Homo sapiens: one gene and its partners. The protein of the gene in region 4 purifies or fractionates together with the protein of the main gene of each other region. This does not show direct contact. Each region holds a gene or a part of one and is shown on either strand. Other genes may lie near its edges.

Region 1 (3,713 bases), on a different chromosome or scaffold from region 4:
CAGAGTGATGGAGGGGCGGAGCAACAGGAGACATGTCCGTCTCCAAAGCCCCAGAGAGAGGCACAGAGACAACGCGGTGGTGGGGGTGGGGGACTCAGAGAGAAACAGGCAGTTGGGAGCCGCTGCCTGTGTGCTGGGGCCACGGGCTGAACCCACAGGGAGTTGTCAACCCTGGAGGGTGAGAGGCAGACAGGCCTGGTCACTGAGTGGCAGCTTGGTGGAGGGGCTGACGGCTGACTCCCCTCCACCCTTCTGACTGTGACCAAGCTCAAGTGCCTGTCCCTCTTTGGGCCTCAGTTTCTTCCTCTGGAACATGGGGTAACAAGAGCACCCTCCCTGACACTCTGTTGGGAGGAGTGAGTTCATGCGCAGAAGGCAGAGAACACAGTGCCGGGCCACATGGGGTCATGGGATCACCCAGCTGTTGTTTACATGGTCATGGCCATCAGTGTATATCGGGGGCGGGAGAGAGACAGGGACAGAGGAAGCAAAACCTGGGGCACGAGGGGAGAGGGTGACTCCAAGACACAGCCATGTCCCGCCTCTTCCCACCCCAGCCCTGCACCTGTGTCCTTCTTCTTCTCGTGGTAGGTGTAGACGGCCCCTGCGGTGCAGTTCTTGCCATGCCGCGTCATCCTAGGGAGGAAGGGACAGTGGCAGGACTGTGGTTACCGGAGGCAGGCAGCACAGGGAAGACCTCTGCAGCCCTCAGAGCTGATCTGCCCCCCTTGATGGGAAAGCGGAGGCGGAGAAGGGGGGTGAGGTGGAAGAGAGGGAGGGCATGTGGTCGCCAGGCCTCCTCCAGGAAGTCCTCCTTCCAGACTCACCTAGACTCATTTATATGTGAAAATAGCACCTTTAACAACAAAACTCTTTGTTTGGAGGTAAGAGGGTGAGAGACCAGAGTTCAAATTCTAGCCACTACTTCAGATTAGCTAGGGTGGTGGCTGTGCCATTTAATGGAGGGGAAAAAAAAAGACACCAAGGGGGCCACTATTGTTGATGAATCCACTCCACCTTCCCTTCCCCTCTCATATCTGTAAGCTCTGACTGAGGCCAAGGCGTGGACCAGCCCAGTGATTGGCTCAAGGCTGGGCACTTAGCTAAGGCTTGACACTTAGCTAAGGCTTGACCCAATCGCTGCCTGCCAGTCCACTAGCGACTGGATCTAGCAGCTGTGATTATGTCTCAGATCGACCGATCAGAGGGCAGGTCAGAGTAGGGCTCTGTGTCTAGGGGAAGAGCTACCTCCACTCCCACTGCAGGTAAAGGAGGAAGAGAAGACCCCAGAACCCTGGAGCTCAATTCAAAAAGCAAAGCTTTTTTTATTCTGTAAGTTTTCAAACACATACAAAACCAGAATAGTATAAGGAACCCCCATGATGTACCCATGTCCTGCGGTCCAGCAGCTGTCAACATTTTGCCACCTTACTTTGATACCTTTGATCATTCCCCATACTTAAGGGCAACCCCCACCCTTTTAAATGACTTTATTGAGACACAATTCACATACCATAAAATTAACCCTTTTAAAGTGGTTTCAGACCAGGTGTAGTGGCTCACGCCTGTAATCTCAGCACTTTGGGAGGCTGAGTCAGGTGGATCACTTGAGTTCAGGAGTTCAAGATCAGCCTGGCCAACATGGTGAAACCCCGTCTCTACTAAAAATACAAAAATTAGCTGGGCGTGGTGGCACACGCCAGTAATCCCAACTACTCGGGAGGCTGAGGCACTGAGAATCACTTGAGCCCAGGAGGCAGGGGTTGCAGTGAGCCGACATCATGCCACTGCACTCCAACCTAGACAGAGCAAGGCTCTGTCACAATTAAAAAAAAAAAAAAAAAGACATTGCCTAAGCCAAGATAATGCACATTTATTCCTATGTTTTCTTCTAGGGGTTTGATCATTTTAACTTTTACTTTTTGAGTTAATTTTTGTGTATGGTGTGAGGAAGGGAGCCCCCTACTTTTCTGGAGTTCATTTGTAAAAGGAGAAGCCCTGAACCCACAGAGGCTGGGCAGCTTTCACCAAGACTGCTTGGCCAGTAAACAGCCTGCATGCCTGTTTGTTTGTTTGTTTTTTGAGACGGAGTTTCACTCTTGTTGCCCAGACTGGAATGCAATAGCATGATCTTGGCTCACTGAAACCTCTGCCTCCCAAGTTAAAGCGATTCTCCTGCCTCAGCTTCCCAAATAGCAGGGATTACAGGTGCCTGCCACCACGCCTGGCTAATTTTTTTGTATTTTTAGTAGAGACGGGGTTTCACCGTGTTGGCCAGGCTGGTCTTGAGCTCCTGACCTCAGGTGATCCACCTGCCTCAGCCTCCCAAAGTGCTGGGATTACAGGCGTGAGTCACTGTGCCTGGCCCCTGCAGGCTTTTTTATCCCTTAAAATGATTTAGAGCCAGGCTCAGGGCTCACGCCTGTAATCCCAAAACTTTGGGAGGCTGAAGCAAGAGGACTGTTGAGCCCAGGAGATGGAGATGAGCCTAGGCAACACAGCAAGATCCATCTCTATTAAATTTAAAAACAAAGAAGTTGATGGCCAGGTGCAGTGGCTGATGCCTGTAATCCCAGCACTTTGGGAAGCCGAGGCGGGGGCGGATCACGAGATCAAGAGATCGAGACCATCCTGGCCAACATGGTGAAACCCTGTCTCTACTAAAAATACAAAAATTAGCTGGGTGTGATGGCACATGCCTGTAGTCCCAGCTACTCGGGAGGCTGAAACAGGAGACTCATTGAACCTGGGAGGTGCAGGTTGCAGGGAGTGGAGATTGCACCACTACACTCCAGCCTGGTGACAGACAGAGACTCTGTCAAAAGAAAAAGAAGAGAAGAGAGAAGATCTAGTAACATTATATACTTGTCTCACTCATCTCTAAGTTGCCACCTAAAAATTCTCCCAAGCTTAAACAGTTGCAAAGGATACAATTTCCAGCAACGTAAATGTGTAGCTGATGGAATCTAAATACTGTAATAATTTGAGACCATTTGAAAAATGCAAGAAAAAGCTGTTTCAACAGCAGAAAATTATACATGTCCTGTTTTTCTCTTTGAACTTGTATTTCCGTTCCACTTCCCTCTCTGCCACCCATTTTTAATCTAACATCGTTTTTTCTTTTTGTTTTTTTTTTTGAGACAGGGACTCACTCTGTTGTCCAGGCTGGAGTGCAGTGGTACAATCACAGCTCACTGCAGCCTTGACCTCCTGGGCTCAAGTGATTCTCCTGCCTCAGCCTCTCGAGTAGCTGGGACTACAGGCATGTGCCACCACGCCCAGCTAATTTTTATATTTTTAGTAGAGATGGGGTTTTGCCATGTTGCCCAGGTTGGCCTTGAACTCCTGGACTCAAGTGAACTCCTGGCCTCCCAAAGTGTTGGGATTACAGGTGTGAGCCACTGCACCTGGCACATCATATCTTTTGTGCTTGAAAATTCTTTTTTTTTTTTTTGAGATCGAGTTTTGCTCTTGTTGCCCAAGCTGGAGTGCAATGGCACGATCTCAGCTCACTACAACCTCCGCCTCTTGGGTTCAAGCAATTCTCCTGCCTCAGCCTCCTAAGTAGCTGGGATTACAGGTGCATGCCACCATACCCAGCTAATTTTTTGTATTTTTAGTAGAAACAGGGTTTTACCATATTGGCTAGGCTGGCCTTGAACTCCTGACCTCAGGTGATCCACCCGCCTCGGCCTCCCAAAGTGCTGGGATTA
Region 2 (3,451 bases), on a different chromosome or scaffold from region 4:
ATCCCCCGACAGGCCCAGGTATGTGATGTTTCCCTCCCTGTGTCCATGTGTTCTCACTGTTCAACTCTCACTTACGAGTGAGAACATGTGGTGTTTGGTTTTCTATTCCTGTGTTAGTTTACCTTAGTTTCCTTATCTGTAAAATGTAGAGAATAGAGTATCTATCTCACATGTTTGTGTGATGATCAAAAAAGTGATGTATATAAGGCACTTGTACTTTGGCACACAATAAGCATTACATGCATATTAAAAAATCAAGACCAATTCAATATCATTTCTCTTTAGAAATAGATTATTTAACATTTCCACTCAACAGAACTGCCGTAAGAAAAATAAAACTATTAAAAAACACAGCATTAAAATTCAAAATAAAGCATTCGCATACTAGTTGTTTCAAGTCTTTAATAAAGGATCAAAAGGGTATCTTCTGAACACACAAAGTAATGAAGGATATACAGAAACTATACCCATCCTATAATTGGGGTTAAAGAGGACATTTCTCAAATAATGAGATGTAAAGAGCATATTGTATCATAGTTCTTCTACATAAAACACACGAGGATTTCAAAACTGTAATATATGACTTATAATAAGATCTCTGAATCCCTCTCTAGATATCACCTTATTACTCATCTTCCCTTCACAGCCCATCATCTCAAAAATATTGTCTAGATCTACATTGTTCAATATGGCAGCCACCAGCCACAGGTGGCTTATATTTACATTAATTAATGTTTAAAAATTCAGTTCCTGAGTCACATGAGCCACACTTCACGTGCTCAATAGCTACATGTGGCTAAGAGCTACTTTACTGGGCAGGGATTCCCATCACTACAAAAAGTTCAAGTGGAGAGCACTGGTCTACAAACTTCACAATAACGCAGGCTGGGTAAGGAGGGCTGAATCTCAACATAGCAGGGGGTATGGAAACCGGGAGAGGTAGAATGTACTCAAGTTAGTATCTGTAATTAAAAAGCAAAAACCCAAAAAACTAAACAATAAGCCCCCAAATAAATAATTCTGAGAAATTTAAGTGATTTAAGGGATTCTGATGAATTTAAGTGGCTATTACCAGCATTTTTTTTTCAGGTCACAAGATGAGAATCCCTTTTCAGCATTGTTTCTTTCTGGGCTCAACAGCTCCAGGCACGCCAGAAGCAGTCAATCCCCTGAGTACTTGCCAAGGTTTCTACAACTAGTAGCCATATGCTGACAACAAGCTATTGTCTCCCTCTCATTTCCTAATCCATTCTGGCTCCCGGGCCCACCAATGCACTGGCTCCATGACTCCCTGATGTCTATGTGGCTGTCTTCCAATGAACACTTTGCAGCCTTTTGCCATAGCTGAGCAGTCCCTCCTGGAAACACTCTTTCAATTTTTGTGATACCACTTTTATGACAGGCTTGTGGTTTGCCTTTTTTTTTTTAACTGGCAATTACTTCTGAGTTTCCACTACCAGACCTTTAGTTTTAGGAGGTGCCCCAAAACTCTTCATAGGTGCTCTTTTCCTTTCATTCTTTCTTCCTACAATGTTTCATGTACTGTCTGTATACTTAACAAATTCCCAATTCTATTTCCAGTCTAGACTCTTCCTTTAAACTGACCATGACTGTCTCACAAGTACCTCAACCTCACTATGTCCAAAACCCAACTCATTATCTTCCCCCAATCCCCCTCCTCTGCATTGTTGCCCATTTCATTAATTGGTACCATCACCCACAAAGATGTTGATGTCAGACATCTGAAAGATGGTGATTTTTTTACTTCTTCAATTTCAATAGCTAGTCAATTACCAAGTCCTATTGATTCTACTTCCTGTATCTTTCATAAATCCATTTTTTCCATTTCCACTGTCACTACCGAGTCCAAAATACCATCTCTTTTAGAACTACTATTATAGCCTCCTATCTGGCCCCTCTCACACAATATTGACCGCTTCCCAAGGTGCCTTTTTATCTTCCCAGTATTCTTTTGAAGCATTCATTTAACTGTGTTATCCCATTATTCAAAAATAAAACACAATTGAAACTAAGGTCTAAACTCTTTCCTGTCACCTGAAGGCTTAAGTTAATCAAGCCCCCTCCTACCTCTCTGGTCTTAATTCACAACTTTCCCCACCTCTCCTAAATGTTTCATTCCTAACCTATATGTCTGCCTTTTTGTATCCTTTCAGTTGCCTGCTCTCAGAGACTGCACATACTGTTTTCTCTACTTGGAATGCACTTTCCTCTTCCTCTTTGACTAGCTCAGCAGCTCTCAAGTGTTTGACTAACTACATCAAAATTATCCAAGTGCTTTTCCTTTTTAAAATTGAATCCTGGACGCTACTTAAGAGCTCCTAGGTCAAATTTCCAGAAGTGGAAACTAGAGATACATCTTCTTAAAAGCTCCCCAAGATAACTCTGACATGCAACCAGGTGTGGAAATCACTGTTAGTCAACAATCAGGCCTCAGCTTCAAGCTCACTTTTTCAGGAAACACTACAGACTTAAAAAGCTGGTGGCACTACAAAGCTTCTCATGGCAACCTGTATTTTTCCTTCATAGCATATATCATGTTATTGAAGTTCTTGTGAAATCACTTAGTACCTACCGCCTCTCAAATAACGTAAGTTTTACAAATTAAGATTCTACCTAGAATGTTTGGTCATGAAAGCTTTTCAATAAGAGAGTTTTACATAAACAAAAAACTCTTACTCTAGCAGTTTACAGATTTTGGTAATATGAGCAAAAGTTGTAATTTTTACTTTCTAAAGGCTGTATCAAATAAATCACTTTTAAAGATTAGTGTGTTCAATATTTATAGCATGGAACATTTCAATTTAAGAGCTTTACTAGTGATATGTTGGGAAAGTCTCAAGTGCTCCAAGTAGGACTTTCCTAAGATAGGTCGTTCCCTTATAAAACCAAGGATCCCAAGTATCATAAGTTTGACTCACCTTCTGTAGTTTTTTAAAGGATGAAGCCTTCATGTTTTCTGACAACTTAACTGAAAAATACTATTATTTTCATTAAGGAACAAATGAGCAATTAAGATGAAAGATGATATCAAATGTTCTGAATTCATGTATAATTTCAAAAACAAGGTTAGAATGTATGGATATATATAGGAAAGATAAGAAATGAATTTCCAGGGGCTGGGCGTGGTGGCTCACACCTGCAAACCCAGCACTTCGGGGGGCCAAGGCGGATGGATCACTTGAGGCCAGGAGTTTGAGACCATCCTGGCCAACATGGTGAAACCCCACCTCCACCAAAAATACAAAAATCAGCCGGGCATGGTGGCGCTCACCTGTAATCTCAGCTACTTGAAAGGCTGAGGCACGAGAATTGCTCGAACCCAGGAGGCGGAGGTTGTAGTGAGATGAGATCGTGCCACTGCACTCCACCCTGGGCAACAGAGTGAGTCTCTGTCAAAAAAAAAAAAAAAAAGGAAAAAAGAAAGGAAGGA
Region 3 (3,713 bases), on a different chromosome or scaffold from region 4:
CATTAGAATCATTTGGGGGAAGTTTTTCAAACTATCCATGCTCAGATCCTACTAATAAGAGATTCTGAGTTATACCTCGGATGAGATCCGGGCAAGTATATCTTGGAAAAAACCGTGTACATGATGTTGGTTTGTACCCCAATCAAGACTACTTTCTAACCCCTAAATTTTCAGGGGCTCTGCTCCAAATGAATAGCTATTTATTGTGGGATAAGGTTGTTTTTTTTTGAACTACAATCCTGATAGCCAGAAAATCACCACCCTAAGGGACAGAGAAGCTACAGGGAGATCCAAGTCTTCCCTTTCTAACAAGCTAAGAAACAGCCCAAGTCAGAAGGCAGTAATAATTAGGCTCAATAATCAATTCCTGAATAGATCAAGATTTCACTTGGATGCCAGAAGTCAGTGTTACACATACCTGTCTGGATCCCTGGGGGACAACCGCCCCCATGTTAATTGGACTGGGACCCTGCATTCCACTAGGTATAGGTCCTCTGGGGCCAGGCACTGGGCCTCTGGTATCCATGCCTCTGGCCTCCATCCCTCGGACTTCCATTGCACGGGCCTCCATCGCTCGGGCCTCCATTGCACGAGCTTCCATCGCACGGGCCTCCATTGCACGGGCCTCTAATCCTCTGGCATCTAACCCTCTTGCCTCCATGGCTCGGGCCTCCATCCCTCGTGCATCTATTCCTCGGGGATCCCTTCCACCTATAAAGAAAAATGTAACAAAACCATTATGTAGCTACTTGCATGTACTGCAAGAATGATGAACAATCCAAGAAAGATAGAAATCTCTTCTAGTCACATTTGTCCCCTCAGCTATTAACATATGAGACTATTGTCTCCTCCCCAGTTTCTCAGATTTGTGGATAAACCTTAAAGATGCTTGCAAACCTACTGTTCCAGCATTCTTTATCCCAGATTAGAGCCTAAGACAGTTGAGTTCATTATGGCATTTGCAATGTGATCTCCCCTTACCTCTGCCATCCAAGGGTGGACCCCTCTGATCTAGCATGGGTCCTCTTGGTTCTGCCATTAGAGGTCTGGGCTCGGGTAATGGCCCTCCCCTCAGTTCATGTGGGGGTGGTCCTCGGCTCTCATGGCCAGGGACATGGTGCATGGGTGGACCCTGATGAGGTGGTCCCAAGTAACCTCTGGAGATGGAGAAAAACGTTGTATTTTAAAATAGAACAAAACAACAACAAAGTACCAACCAGATCAGTAAGTAAACATCCAACAAAGAGCTGATGTAGTCTATGAATACTAACAAGAAAATAACACCAAATAGATGGAAGAAAAGCTACAGAGATATAAATCCATGTATTCTAGAATTTCGTTATTTGGTTCATAATTAGGGAGGAATCAACGAATATTCATTATATGTATGAGTTTGCAGAACAATGCATAAGAACATGAGCTCTGGATTCAGACTGTATGGGTTCAAATCTAGGCTCTATCACTTATTAGCTGTGTGATATTGGACACATTATTTAACTTTTCCACACATCAGTTTCACGTGTAAAATGGGACTAATAATGGTATCCATCTCACAGGATCTTGTGGATTTAATAAGATGATCTAAGTAAAGTACTCAGAGCAGAGTCAGAGGCATGATCCCCATTAATGTCAATTATTATTACTATCATTATTTTATTTATTTATTTACTTTTGAAATGGAGTTTCACTCTTGTTGCCCAGGCTGGAGTGCAGTGGCATGACCTCGGCTCACTGCAACCTCCACCTCCTGGGTTCAAGCGATTCTCCTGCCTCAGCCTCCCCAGTAGCTGTAATTATAGGCGCCCGCCACCACGCCCGGCTAATTTTTCTATTTTTAGTAGAGATGGGATTTCACCATGTAGGCCAGGCAGGTCTCGAACTCCTGACCTCAAGTGATCCACCCACCTTGGCCTCCCAAAGTACTGGGATTATAGGCGTCAGCCACTGCACCCGGCCTATTATTGCTATTATTAATATTTCCACTACTATAAATTTCCCTGTTCAAGTATGTATACTAAAATTTCCAATTTCTAAAAATATAATAGCTCAAAATGACATACTCAAGTACATAGTTCTGCCTTAGGAGAAGTGCTTACCCTTGGACAGTGGCCATGAATATTGATCTACCTTTTGAAGTAGGCAAACAGGTACAACTGGTACAGAAAGATTTTGTTCTCAGGGAAGAAGGGACAATTCTGATTTCTTCAACTGTTTCCTTCTATGTTAGTGCTTACCTAGGCTCTACCTCTCCAGTTACAGAAAGTAAAGTGCCTCCCCGTGGATCATTCGGAGCATCTCCTAACAAGCCTCGAGGGGTTGGGACATTCGCAGGCAAGGATCCCCGCTGCATAGCTGCTCTGGGGTCTTGCATCGGCACTGACAGGGAAACAAACGGGGAGTTACTGCTGTGAAAGACACATAAGCAAACAAGAAATGACTCTATATACCACTGACAACATAATTCAGACACCTTAGAGTGGGTGAAACCTCACCACAGCAGAATCCTCTTGCAGCTCAAGAACAGAAGCAGGGTGTAGGCAGAATCTGTGCCATGTCAGAGGTATGGATGGAATTATATAAAGAGCAAACTGGGGAGCAACCTGCCAAGGACTAGCACTGCGACCTGGAGAAACTTATGCTCCTGGTTTTCCTTCTAATCAATCTTAGTTCAAGGACCAGAGTCACAAAACAGAGGTAGAGTCTTGGCATATGTGAACACTGCCATGGCTCTGCAAGAACCCGCTGTCTCCTTACAGACTGCTATTCCATCCAAGCCTCCTGACACCAGTAGGGAGGGAGTACAGCCTCGGACAGATGCCCATATCATCCATGTTCTCTGCCCTGTGTGAAGAGGTCAATCTTAGGCTTGTGGCCTCAACAGGAAAAAATTAAAAAAACAAAAACCCAAAAACACTACCCTTTTGGGTTCTGAACGCGAGGATGACTGCCACGCAGCTCTTTTCCTCTCAACGTCCCACCCTGAACACCACAAGCAAAAGGAAACCCACAGATACAATGGGTACCTTGAACTCGCTCAATTGATGCAGGCCCGGCGGGTCCCACGGGCGAGTGCTGTAGGGTTCCTAGGTAAGCAGTAAGTTCAAAAGGAGAAAGAGCAGACACTTAAAATAGCTTGCATACACACGCAGAAACACACACACATGGAGATTGAGATTTACATATATAAGTTAAAAAGCCAAGAGTTCATCGGCTTGCTCCAGGCTACAAAATCTCCCTAAACTACACTAGCTCCTTTGGGTCTCTGAAATAGTTCCATTTTGACCAGATAGCTTTTGAAAGGGAATCCCATGGGGGCACTGGTTTGATCTAGGTGGGAATAACCTGACATTTTCGATTTTCACCTCTGCTACTAGTTTTCCGTTAGGTCTCCTTATGAAATCATTAGGAAAAAAATATATAAAAAGGATAGTTTTGAATCTTCTAGTTATGCAAAGAACATAAATGTAGTTTCAGAAGCAAAACATAAAAGAAACTGCACTGAATCTGGAAGGCAAGATTCATTCTGAAACGGCCATAACTGAAGTACGGCAATTCTATTTTTGTCACATTTTAAAGCACAAAAATTTCTGCTGTCAAAAATGTATCAGATGGGGAAATGCAGTGAATGAACTTTACATGATGAAAGAGAATATCACTCCACAAGAAATACTCTGCCACAGCAAGTCTTTGATAATAAACATCATGACAACAGC
Region 4 (3,783 bases):
GTGCTTGGAAGATAAATGGAACAGTTATGGAAAACCAGTACCTTGAGCAGATGAAGCTTCCCTCCTGAACTTCTTGTACATATTAAAAAGTGTTTTGTAAATAAGAAGCATTGTCTCTCTCCTTCCTTTTTCAAAGACAACGAACCCAGGCGAACTTTACTAAGTTTCCCCCTCTCAACGGAAGGTACTTGAATAAGAGAACCTGGTGATTACAAAAATGAAGAATACACAGCAATTAAAATTCTGTCAAGTGAGGACCATGTCCACGGCAATAAACACTAAGGTCTGTTTCCCAAAATACCAGGGATTGATTTATGTGACACATCATCAGAACAAGTAACTCTCTTCCAGTCTGAGCAGAAGAAACAATGCATTGTATTTTAAGGGCTGAACTGTTCCTAATATTTTTGTGAAACACTTTAGACTTGATTCTTCATCTATAAACTGGAAAATAAGTTTGAAAGATGGCAAAATTGAATTCAAAGAATGAAGCACTTCTGCCATCTGTCCTTAGTGATCTGATCCAATCAATTTATGTATTTAATAATAACATACATATTGCATAATTATATAGAATAATATGATAACAAAAAGCAAATGCAATGTATTCTTCCTGAAGCACAGAATGTAGATAAATAGCATATTAATACAGTTTACCTTGTATTTTAAAAATAGAATGTACAATACATGTATATTATAAAAATATATAAATTATATAATTCAGTGAAATTTAGCTAAGAACTATTTTTAAAGGACACCTATTTCAAGTTACATTTAAATTATGTGAGATAAAAATTATTTGTGGAATCTAAACAGAAAATAATCCACATAAAATCTATACCCAGTATACTCCTAGGAGCAAAACTACCTTCCATTTAATGTGGGAAGCTATACACAGACTTTATAATACCAACATTACCTTTGATTATTTCTAGATTTCACCCTCATAGCAACCTCCCCCTACCCCAAAAATAAAATTCCAATCTAAGTTAAATATCAAACCAAAAAGTACTAACAAAGATTCTTGCCAACCTCTTGATTCTGACTTCTGAAGTGCCCTGAGATAGTCAAATTTCTTACATTTATTTAACCTACCACCTACCCCAAATGCAGCCTTCTGCAGGCTCATATTACCCTCAGAAGAATCATTAAGTGCATATCCAACCCTTGAACATTAACAACAGTCATCACTAAGAGATGAGATTGTAGACAACCTTATTTTCCTCTTCATACATTTTTCTAGCTTCTTGATTTTTTTAATGAGCACAAACTACTTCAATAAGCAGAAAAAGACCACTAAAGTTCTCCATATAAATAATATATATATGTAAGTTGGTAAAACTATGATTGTGAGTCACAAAATGTTCATATTAACATATGAATGTTGCAAATTGCATCTACTTTTTAACAGAAATTGAAAGGTGTACAGGGTGGCAAGAGACCCAAGTTTCCACGCCTGGATCTCACACTGTCTATTTTGGTGAGTGCTGCAGTGGGATGCTTGACAGACACAGAGTAGGCAGCTATTCTGGGCCTAAAGAATAGCAAGGAAGAAGTCCTGGGTGAGGGTGTGGGATTGGGGAACAATGGGCCAGGAGACGGCTTGACTCCCACGAAGGGATGGGCAAGAGGAGAGTGAATGAAGGAGGTGAGGTGGGTGGGAGCAAACTGGCTGGCAGCCCAGGCAGCAAGGAATGACATAGAGTACTGGAGGCAGGGGAAAGCAGGAGGCAGAAGTTAGGGAAGTCTATGAGCAAGTCATAGCAGCAGAAGGATGGGCTCATAGGGCTCAGGATGCAATCAAAGCCAGAGGCCTTGCAGAGGACATGGTTTAATGCCTCCCATTTCACAGATGGGGAAACTGAGGTCTGAGGCCAAGTAGCTCGCCTAAGGTCATGCCTAAGTGAGAAGGGAGTGATGTAGCCAGGGGATTCAGCCACATAAAATATAAGACTCAGAAAGAAGACAGATGGGAAGAGAGTAAGTTCTAGCTCTGCCATGGGGGCCATGAGCCATCAGGCCCATGACTTAGGGCTGAGTGAAAGACTGAGGCTTGGACAAATAATCTTGGTGGACAAATAGCTCTGGGAGTCATTTTCAGAAAGGCTATAAGCAAGCTGTGAAAACTCAATAATAATGTGTTCGTTAGTAAATGCTTCTAGCAATTTAGTGATTTTCTATGTCAGAAATTATAGAATACATAAAAATAAATACAATTTAGAAAGAAATTACAGAATACGCTGTTAGCTCATATATTAGCAATTACTGTGAATTTCAGCTGTGAGACAAAAAAAATAAATGTTTCCTTGGCAACCATACACTAATATGCTTAATCTATAATTGTTTACCTTATATCCAAGTAGAAGGGAGACATAGGAGACTGTGTACATTAGGTACATACAGAAATGTATACATCTGAATTAAAAGTGAGAAATTGCAACACTATGGTTTGTGAAATAATCATATTTGGAAAAAGCATTTTAAGAGGATTTTTTCACATTTTCTCTTGCATTTGACATGATGTTTCAATACAGCTATGAGATATGAAGAAAGGATTCCTCGCTAGCTAATACAAATTAGAGAAATACTTAGTATTCATTTAGTAATTCATCAGATCATTGCTATAGCATGATTCTTTGCATCCTGGTCATCGGTCTCTCTAATAATTGGGGTCAACTTCCAACAAAATTTCTGTTAATTCAATCACTTCATTCCCACAGAATGGCATTCAAGACTATGCCCCTTATTCTTAATTCTACTGAGTAATGAAAAAGAATGAAGAACCATTTCCAGCTTATTGGGTTAGGCATTTGAGAAGATATAACTGTCTCTAGACCCAAAGTTAAAATTTCAGAGAACACTGGTACATTGAAAGCGCATGACTTAGAGTCTAGGAATGATTAAAATACCAGAAAGGTCCATGTCTTATTCTCAAGGCACTTAGTCCTGTATTCAGTCACCTATATTTCATTTTCCTGACTTACATTTCCACAAAACACTGTTCACAATGCATAATAGATTTTGTACAAAATGTCAGCTTAGAGTGCCTTTATCTTCTACTAAATATTCATACATATTTCATGTTATTGAAAATAGGAAGTCATTCCAAAATTTGGATCTTGGCTTTTAAAGTTTATCATAATCTTGCAGGTACTAGTCTAGGTGCTTTTGTGAGCATTAGCTCATTTTTACAACAATCCTAAAAGATAGCTACTACTATTAACTCCAATTTAAGGAGAAGAAACTGAGGCATAGAGAAGTTAAGTAAATTGCCCAATATCACACAGCAAGGAAGTAGGGGAGACAGGATTTGACCTCCAGTGATGCAGCTAGACTGTTTTCCTATCATTGCCTCAGACACTCACACATTTATTCAACAAACTATTAATAGATTTTAGAAAACAATGATAATATCAGACCATTTCTATAATATAGTCTTCTGTATCCTATCCAACAGACTAATAATGGGAAACCATTTACAATAAAACTTTCATTATTTCAATCACTAAATCCTCATCAAAAAACATTCAAGAGTTGCTGATGCCTTTATTCTGAGGTGATCTTTCAGATGATCTGGATGACGTATTTTTCTAGTTCTTATGAATAAAAATTCACATAAGGTGGAAACTACATGCACACATGCACGCATGCACACACACACACACGCACATAGAAATAGACCACATATCATCCCTAAAAGTAATTAACACAAATATTAGTACACCTTTAGAGATAAATTGTAGACCATTTCATAGAAAATAAGAATCCCTCTAAATTTTTTTA

Evidence for each region.
Region 1: the proteins of RASGRF2 (region 4) and NOSIP purify together in Homo sapiens (affinity purification with mass spectrometry; one large-scale study listed by BioGRID and IntAct). This does not show direct contact.
Region 2: the proteins of RASGRF2 (region 4) and GAR1 purify together in Homo sapiens (affinity purification with mass spectrometry, with the first as the bait; one large-scale study listed by BioGRID). This does not show direct contact.
Region 3: the proteins of RASGRF2 (region 4) and CSTF2 purify together in Homo sapiens (affinity purification with mass spectrometry; one large-scale study listed by BioGRID and IntAct). This does not show direct contact.

Annotation. Positions count from the first base shown.
Region 1 is NC_000019.10:49,560,057-49,563,769, forward strand, and holds part of NOSIP (nitric oxide synthase-interacting protein), read right to left. Parts: intron 637-3,713; coding exon of another isoform or gene 636-636; coding exon 566-635; intron 1-565. UniProt on the Homo sapiens protein: E3 ubiquitin-protein ligase that is essential for proper development of the forebrain, the eye, and the face. Catalyzes monoubiquitination of serine/threonine-protein phosphatase 2A (PP2A) catalytic subunit PPP2CA/PPP2CB.
Region 2 is NC_000004.12:109,818,549-109,821,999, reverse strand, and holds part of GAR1 (H/ACA ribonucleoprotein complex subunit 1), read right to left. Parts: intron 3,000-3,451; coding exon 2,940-2,999; intron 1-2,939. UniProt on the Homo sapiens protein: Required for ribosome biogenesis and telomere maintenance. Part of the H/ACA small nucleolar ribonucleoprotein (H/ACA snoRNP) complex, which catalyzes pseudouridylation of rRNA.
Region 3 is NC_000023.11:100,830,178-100,833,890, reverse strand, and holds part of CSTF2 (cleavage stimulation factor subunit 2), read right to left. Parts: intron 3,084-3,713; coding exon of another isoform or gene 3,024-3,083; intron 2,842-3,023; coding exon of another isoform or gene 2,669-2,841; exon of another isoform or gene 2,383-2,668; intron 2,377-2,382; coding exon 2,235-2,376; intron 1,158-2,234; coding exon 982-1,157; intron 712-981; coding exon 419-711; intron 1-418. UniProt on the Homo sapiens protein: One of the multiple factors required for polyadenylation and 3'-end cleavage of mammalian pre-mRNAs. This subunit is directly involved in the binding to pre-mRNAs.
Region 4 is NC_000005.10:81,089,220-81,093,002, reverse strand, and holds part of RASGRF2 (ras-specific guanine nucleotide-releasing factor 2), read right to left. Parts: intron 203-3,783; coding exon 42-202; intron 1-41.